Regions from separate parts of the Homo sapiens genome. Here region 2 is linked to region 1. The links come from fine-mapping of genetic effects on gene expression. A gene starts in region 1. The other region holds a variant in brackets. All regions are shown on one strand. Distances are from middle to middle.

Evidence for each region. PIP is the estimated chance that this variant, and not a neighbour inherited with it, causes the effect.
Region 2: its variant is the best candidate, but not a certain one, in a credible set for the expression of PRG2 in thyroid (GTEx, PIP 0.51).

Annotation. Positions count from the first base shown.
Region 1 is chr11:57,388,956-57,393,342 of GRCh38, reverse strand. It overlaps PRG2 (proteoglycan 2, pro eosinophil major basic protein), which reads left to right and starts at 2,693. Exons shown (of 6, transcript NM_002728.6): 1 at 2,693-2,747; 2 at 3,387-3,456; 3 at 4,026-4,333. The coding sequence starts at 3,399.
Region 2 is chr11:57,437,453-57,441,839 of GRCh38, reverse strand. No RefSeq gene overlaps it. Among named protein-coding and RNA genes, the nearest start is that of SLC43A3, 13 kb to the right of the region's middle. The variant G/A (reference allele first, on the strand shown) is at 1,866.

The DNA of each region.
Region 1 (4,387 bases):
ACTCCAGAAGCCACCCTCTCAGACACTGCTGTATACTTCCAGTGAATGTTGATGAAATTTTCAGGGTTGCTAAGCTGTGGATTTCAGATCCTGGATTGTATGACCTAAAAGAGAGACTTCCCTAGGAGTGAGGGTCCCTGAACAGTCAACTGGTTTCCAAGAATGGGCTCCCTCTCATCACCTTATGACAGTAATCCTCTGTCCAACAGCCAAAGAGGTCCTGTGGGGAGGGCTTGCAGATGGGAGTGCGCAGAGCCCAGCTCAAAGCTCCTGACTAGGCTCTTGTTGAGTATTCCTTTGATTCCTGCTTCTGTCTTTTTAAATCAATGGAGACAGGGGAGGGTTATCTCCATCCTCGGCTCAAGATGAAATGCATCGTTCCTCGTTTTTCTCATTCCTTCCCAATGTGTGTACTGTTAACTTTAGTTATGAAGGAAATTACAGTGTCCTGTGCATATACCAAGGCTGTCCAACCTCCACACCTTTGCTCAAGCTGTTCCTTCTACTTGAAATGCCTGTTTCCTTCCCTTCTAATTGCATCTTTCCATCCAGGTAGGAATCAGCTCCTTGGTTCATGGAGCCTTTTCTGCTCTGTTTTACTATGCATGGACTTCCTTCTGAATTAGCAGAGGATGTTTCCTAGCTTGGTCTTAACCCTTCTCCTTTTGTTTGACCTCAATTTACTCATCTTACAAATTAGGTTGTAAGCTAATTGAATACAGGATCTATGCTTCACTCTGATTTTATCTCCACCTGGATAGCATCATTTTTGACACACAAGCAGGCATATGGGAGGGGAGAGAAGTTTGGTGCCAGAAAGAACTGGATTTGAATTCTAACCCTGTTGTTTACGTGAGTACGTTACTTAACCATTAATTACTTCAATGTATATTTATTAAGTACCTACTATGTGCCGGGCACTGTACTAAGCACCAAGGATACAATGGTGAGTAAAGAGATGCAGCCTTCACCATCACGAAGGAAGACAGATGTTAATCCATTAACCAAGTAATCTCACAAGAAAAGTAAAATGACTAACTGATAAGGACAAGCCCCTGGAGCTACAAGAGGGTGTATACAGGGCATCGATCCAATAAGGGCAGTGTTGCGGGGAGATCAGGAGCCACACAGAGCCTGGGTTGTCTCACTTGGAAAATGGGGTATCAACCACCTACCTCACTAGGTTTTTAAAATCAGGTTAAATGAGGTAATACTTGCCATGAACAGTATTTTGTTGATTGATGATTGATTGAAACGGAGTCTCACTCTCTCGCCCAAGCTGGAGTGCAGTGGTGCAATCTCAGCTCACTGCAACCTCTACTTCCTGGGTTCAAGTGATTCTCCTGCCTCAGACTCCCAAGTAGCTGGGATTACAGGCAGCCACCCCTATGCCTGACTAATTTTTGTATTTTTAGTAGAGACAAGGCTTTGCAATGTTGACCAGGCTGGTCTCAACCTCCTGACCTCAAAAGATCCACCCACCTCAGCCTCCCAAAGTGCTGGGATCACAGGCATGAGCCACTGCATCCAGCCACTTGCCATGCATGGCATTTAAAAATGTTCAGTAAATGTTACCATAATGAAGGCTGGTAGGTTGGCCAACTGAGTGGTCTGATTCAGAAGGAAAGAAGTTAGACATACGTGAACATTTCCTGTACTTGAAGATCCTCAGGACAGTGACTCCTAGACCCATCTTCCATCACAGTCAGCTGGGAAGCTTTTAAAAAAATGCAGACATCTGACCTTCACGCTAGACCTATTAGCCAAGCAGAAGTTTCTGGGCAGGGCATCTGCATATTTTTAAAAATCTTTAATAAGGCAGCCTCAAAATTACAGATTCAGCACGCATTTACCATAACCACTGAAGAAATGCAAAGTTATAAAAAGAAGATAAACAACAATCTGTCTCCTGCTTTCTTCCCTCTCCTCCCCTGCTTCTGGAGGCAACAAGGTCAACTATTTGGTGTGATTCCTTTTAGCATTCCCTCCATCAATGGTCACATAAGGATGCTCACAGATAAGCACCTATGCGGGGGTTTTTTTTTTCCTTGTAAAACTATTCACATACTAAATACTTTCCTCAGTATCTTGCCTTTTTTCACTTCATGTCACAGAAACATCTCTTCAGGTTTATAGATACAGGTCCAGCTCTTCTTTTCATAGCCATATAACATTCTGTAGAATAGAGAGGACACATTTTACTCAGTGTCCGATTGATGGATATCAATATTGTTTTCATTTCTACAAATAGTCAAGGAATAACATAACTCTGTAAAAGTTTTATTACTTATAGGCGCATTTATGCCTAAAGGATAGTCTCAAAAGAGTGAAACTGATCAAATGTGCATTTTTTTATTTTAATAGGTATGGACAGATTTGTTCTCAAAATGTTTGTGGCAGTTCAAAACACCAGTAAAACAGGGGAGATATGTATTTTGGAAAAGCACCCAAGGCGATTCTGAAGTGTAGCCCAGGATAAGAACCATTGCCCAGAGCTGTTCCAGATGGCCCCTGGGTTCCTGAAGTGGGTATCGGGAGAGAAATCTTCACTGAATGAATGAGTGGGCTCCCCAGGGAAGTGATGAAATGGTCCTTATCAGCCTTGCTATCTCCCTCTGACAGAGGCAAACTCTCTCTCCCTGGGGGAAGTTCCTCCAAGGCCTCTATATAAGAAGTCTTTGTGAGAGGAAGCAAAGAAGGACCTGGGCTTTGGGAAGATCTAAAGACCCAGGAAGGTCTCTGGGTGGGTGAGTGCTTTCTCTGCTGTGGTGGAGCTGGTGACAGTTTATTCTCCCAGGAGGTCCCTGGCTGTGGCTGACAGTTTCTGGAGGGCTGGCAGGCGTCTACCTGTGGCTTTCAGGTTATGAGGATGTCAGCAGGGGCAGCCTTCATCCTCTGCCTTGCACATTCCTTCTGCGGGATGTGAAAGTGCTCCTTGGCTGGGGAAAGGAGATGGTGGAGACATGGAGGAGGGTGTGGGTGGCTTCTTGAACTCTGAGGAGGGGACATACCTTCTAAGTCCTATGTGTTCCTAGGAAAGCCAATAATCATTGCTTCTCCCGCCTTTTTTATGTCATAGACTCTGAGGGACCCATTAAGTACAAACAAATAAGCGTAATAGTCCCTTCTTTACTTCCGGGCCTGAAGGAAAGCCAGCCTCAGCCACCCCTCAGGGTTTGCTGCGTTCTGTTTAGAAAGAGGTCCTTGCGTCCTGGATCCTGGAGCATCAGGAGCTGGGCTTGGCATGAGCTTTTCTGGCCCATCCTGATTTCTATTCAGGCCTTCTTTTTCTCCACCTCACTCCCACGGTCCCCTAATGGTGTGATTGTGATGTGTGTGCATGTGTGTCTGTGTGTGTCAATGACAAACTGTGTTCTCCGTTGCAGGATAAAGCCAAGATGAAACTCCCCTTACTTCTGGCTCTTCTATTTGGGGCAGTTTCTGCTCTTCATCTAAGTAAGTGTTTTTTGCCTTCAGTCTTTCTTTCTCTGTTTTTTCCCTTTCTATGGTAGATGGGGTCAGAGTTACACACCCACCCCCTTCTTTGATCGTCTTCTATTTCTGAATTTCTGTGTGCTTAAAGGGATGGGGACTCTATGGCCAGGAGTTGAAAGGATTTCTCAAGGCGTCTGTTATGTCTGTGGTCTTGGTTCTACTGTGACATTCCCAATTTTGTCCTTTCTCCATTATGCTTACTTTGAGCTTACTGAGTGCCTTCTCTCCTTTAACTCTCTTAGCATCGCCATGAAGTAGGTGGTATTGTATACCCATTTCACAGAAATACAGCTGGTGGATGATGGAACCAGTACCCAAGCCCATGACTGCCCGACTCTAAGTCCATGCTCTTAACCACCTTGACCTTGTCAGGCAGCTTGGGTTCCCCTCATAGAGACTGGGTTCCAGGTTCCCCTTCCCAGGCAGAGTTGAGCACTCTGATGCCCAGGGCAAGGTGTGAGCTGTCTGTGGTTCTGGGGAGGAACAAGGGGAGATGTGAAGGAAGGACACTTAGCTATCCTCCCTGCCAGGGTCTGAGACTTCCACCTTTGAGACCCCTTTGGGTGCTAAGACGCTGCCTGAGGATGAGGAGACACCAGAGCAGGAGATGGAGGAGACCCCTTGCAGGGAGCTGGAGGAAGAGGAGGAGTGGGGCTCTGGAAGTGAAGATGCCTCCAAGAAAGATGGGGCTGTTGAGTCTATCTCAGTGCCAGATATGGTGGACAAAAACCTTACGTGTCCTGAGGAAGAGGACACAGTAAAAGTGGTGGGCATCCCTGGGTGCCAGACCTGCCGCTACCTCCTGGTGAGAAGTCTTCAGACGTTTAGTCAAGCTTGGGTGAGTGGCCTATGGCTGAGGCTGAGGTGGGAGCATGGAACGGGTGTGGGATAT
Region 2 (4,387 bases), 48 kb before region 1:
GTAGTTAGGACTACAGGCACGCACCACCACGCCTGGCTAATTTTTTTGTATTTTTATTAAGAGATGGGGTTTTGCCATGTTGGCTAGGCTGGTCTCGAACTCCTGACCTCAGGTGATCTGCCCGCCTTGGCCTCCCAACATGCTGGGATTACAGGCATGAGCCACCATGCCCAGCCATTACGTTTTTTTGGTTGTTTAATTTTTTTTTTTTTAAGAGACAGATTCTCACTCTGTCATCAAGGCTGGAGTGCAATGGCACAACCATAGCTCACTGCAGCCTCCAACTCCTGGGCTCAAGGGACCCTCCTGCCTCAGCCTTCCCAGTAACTGAGACTACAGGTGTGAGCCACCATGCTCAGCTAATTATTTTTTATCTTTTATTTTTTGTAGAGGGGGGGTCTTTCTATGTTGCTCAGGTTTGTCTCAAACTCCTGGGCTCAATCAATTCTCCTGCTTTGGCCTCCCAAAGGGCTGGGATTACAGGTGTGAGCCTGAAAACCTTCTAGTGTGGAAGTGGAAGATAGGCCCAGGCCACTTATGTTTTCAAGTTAAGCAAGGTTTAGGTCACTTATGAAGCCTGACTAGTTTTGTTTGCTTAAGGGATCTGCAGGCCTGACCTCGGTTTTCATTTGTTTTAACAGTGTCTATGTGTATGTGTGTGTTTATGTACGTGCATGATGGGGGGAAAGCTCAGAAATCAAGTAAGCCAAACACAAACATGTAATTATAAGCAGGGATAAATTCTATGATGAAGAAGTATGGGCCACGGGAGAGTACTTGTGCCAGTCTGGTGATCAGGAACAATGTCCTTTGGGAAGTGACATTTGAGCCATGCCCTGAAGTATGGTAGGAGTTGGTTAGGGGTGAGGCAGTAAGACCCAGAGCTGGGGCTTCCTGCACAAGCTCAGCTGGGCACTGAGGACCCAGTGGACTCTGCTACAGGGCAGTGAGGAGCAGAAAGGCTGAGGAAGGCTGGGTGTGGTGGCTCACACTTGTAATCCCAGGGCTTTGAGAGGCTGATGGGGGAAAATCGGTAGAGCTCAGGAGTTTGAGACCAGCCTGAGCAACATAGCAAGACTCCATCCCTGTAAAAAGCTTTTAAAAATTAGCTGGGTGTGGTGGTATGCATCTGCAGTCTCAGCTACTCAAGAGGCTGGGGTAAGGATTGCTTGAGCCTAGGAGGTGGACGCTGCAGTGCGCCATGATTGTGCCACTGTACTCCAACCTAGGAGACAAAGCGAGATCCTGTCTCAAAACTGAATGAATAGGCTGTGTGCGGTGGCTCACTCCTGTAATCCCAGCACTTTTGGAGGCTGAGGTGGGTGGATCACCTGTGATTGGGAGTTTGAGACCAGCCTGGCCAATATGGTGAAACCCGATACAAAAATTAACTGGGCATGGTGGCTCACATCTGTAATTCCAGCTACTCGGGAGGCTGAGGCATGAGAATGTCTTGAACCCGGGGGGCAGAGGGTGCAGTGAGCTGAGATCGCACCACTGCACTCCAGCCTGGGAGACAGCGAGACTCCATCTCAAAAAAAAAATAATAATAATAACAATTAAAAAAAAATTAAAAGGCCAGGGAGCACTGGCAGCCTGTCCAAGGTTTCAGGTCACTTTAGTAAAGGGAGAACAATGGCTCCTCCCAGGACCTCTGGGATCTCAGCATTGATACGACAGTCATGGAAATGCTAGGGCCCAGGCAGACCATCTCAGGGAAAACAAGTGGCTCTGCCCTGCCTTGGCCACTTCCTGGCCCTCTGCATGCCCCAGGGTCTCAGCACCAAGCTGTTCTCAGTGAGTAGCTCTCATTTAGTGCCAGGGCTCTCGGGCTTACATCCTACGATGACGATGGAATGCATAAA[G/A]GATGGGGCTGTGATAGCCCAGAGCTAGGGGTTCGAATCTCATGAGATGTTCATGGAGCCCTGGGAGGGAGCTCAGTGCAAGTTCATTTCTCTTTTTTGGTTGAGATGGGGCTCAGAGGAGGAAGGACTTGTTCAAAGACACACAGGGAGTGTTTCAGTGTGGGACGGAGGTTTATGGAGAAAGGGTGACCATCCAAGGCTTGGACAAAGATCATGACTTCGACCAGCAAGCCTCAACTCTGTAGACTTGGTGGGGGCCAGGCCCTCCCAAACACACCTGACAGGTGTCTGTGGTCTTGGGGACATTGTCGCTCCCCTTCCTGCTGATGCTCTGCTGTCCCTCTCCCATGAAGCGTATCTCTTCGCCGTCTCCCATCCTTGCTGAGAGAGGATGGGTTCTCTTCTGACCAATACTGAAGATCTTTAGTAAAGTTCTCTTTTTTTTCATTTTCTGAAAGTCCCTCTCTTGAGAAATCAGGACAAGTGAGTCAGGGCCAGGACAAAAAACAGTGTGGGACGAGTGTGGTGGCTCACGCCTGTAATCCCAGCACTTTGGGAGGCCAAGGTGGCGGATCACTTGAGGTCATGAGTTTGAGACTAGCCTGGCCAACATGGTGAAACCTCGTCTCTACAAAATACAAAAATTAGCCAGGCGTGGTGGTGCATGCCTGTAATCCCAGCTATTCGGGAGGCTGAGGCAGGAGAATCACATGAACCCAGGAGGCGGAGGTTGCAGCGAGCTGAAATTGGGCCACTGCACTCTGGCCTCTTGGCAACAGAGCCAGACTACCTCTCAAAACAAAAACAAAAACAAACGACAAACAGTGTAGACTTTGTGTTTTTCTCAAAAGCACTGTCAAGCCAGTGCCCGCAGCAGTGGGCCTAGACACCTCCAGTCTTGCCTCAGGGTCAGTTTCCAGCCTCCCTGGACACTTCCCCCAGGTATGTGTACTTTTTGATTGTCCTAAATCCAGAGTCTGTGGCCTGACCTGGTTTGTCACAGCTCTCAGTCCCTCCCCATCCCGAATCCCAGGGAGCCGCAGGTGTGTGCAGAAGAGGCACACCACACTCAATACATCTTGCATCCTCGCTGGACCCAATCCATTGGCTTGGTGATGTACAGACTGAGCCTCATTATAGCCGTTCGTTCCTGTTGACCTTTCCAGATCAATCTGCCAGCTTGGCTTCTCCGAGTTTCGCTTGTCAGCATTTCTCCAATCCCATCATGTACTTTGGACCTCTTTGTTGGGTGGCTTGCTTTATCTGAAATTTTCAGATTTGACTTCAGGTCTCTCCTTTGTCCCTTAATATGGCTTAATGGTGGACCCTGTCAGGGGTAGAGAAAATATTGAGGAGCCCTGACTTTGAGGTGCACAAGTTAGAGGGTTAGACAAGTCCAGCCACAACCAGCCCAAGCTGCAGTGTAGGGAGGCCTGTCCAGCTGCTCCACGGTTGAGGGTGGAGCATACAGGAAGGCTTCCTTCTTGCTGCAGCCCAGGTGTTCTGGCTGCCCTAGCTGCCTGGCTTTGGTAGAAGAAAGAAAGGCTCTGTCTCTGACTTGTCAACTAATGGCACTATGAGATTGCACATAATTAACCTGGGTCTGCTCTTCCAAAAGCCTTGGGCCTCTGACTGCAACATGGAGTCTGGGTATCACTCCCCATCCCTGCGCCACTCACCTGCTCTGGCGCTAGGCGTGTGCCTAATCACTTAATTTCTCTGTGCTGCCTCTTAGGTATCACTTCCCCTGATCCCAAATACTTACCAGGTGTGGGATGATACCTGACTAGTTACTCCTTGGAGGTATCTGCTTCTCACCGGGGACTCCGAAACCAAACGAAAAGCAAGGCCAAGCCCAGCCTAAAGGACGCTTCCTACATGACTTCAGGCTTGCGGGGGCTGGAGCGTGGGGGTGGCAATGGAGTTGGGGGGGGCTCAGGGAGGGGATGTGGAAGTGCTTTGCTTTGCAAACTCTAGAGAGCCGTGTAAATAGGAGTGATTATTCTGTCCCTTCCCTTTCTTTCCAACAGGAATCAGCATCCCACAGCCCATGTTCAGCTATGAAGAATGGAAACTGAGGCTCCGGGAGGGGTATAGGGAGGAGCCAGCAGGGTCTTGAGTTCATATTAGTGCCCTTTCCTCCATAGGCACATCTGTGTTTTCTTTTATTTTATTTTGAATTTAATTTTTTTTTTTTTTGGCAGAGTCTTGCTCTGTCGCCCAGGCTGGAGTGCAGTGGCGCGGTCTCAGTTCACTGCAATCTCCGCCTCCTGGGTTCAAGTGATTCTCCTGCCTCAGCCTCCCGAGTAGCTGGGATTACAGGTGTACACCACCACACCCAGCTGATTTTTGCAATTTTAGTAGAGACAGGGTTTCACAGTGTTGGCCAGGCTTGTCTTGAAATCCTGACCTCAAGTGATCTGCTAGCCTCGGCCTCCCAAAGTGCTGGTATTATAGGTGTGAGCCACTGCGCTCGGCCACATCTGTGTTTTAAATGAGAGGAAAGGGGATAATGTGCATTT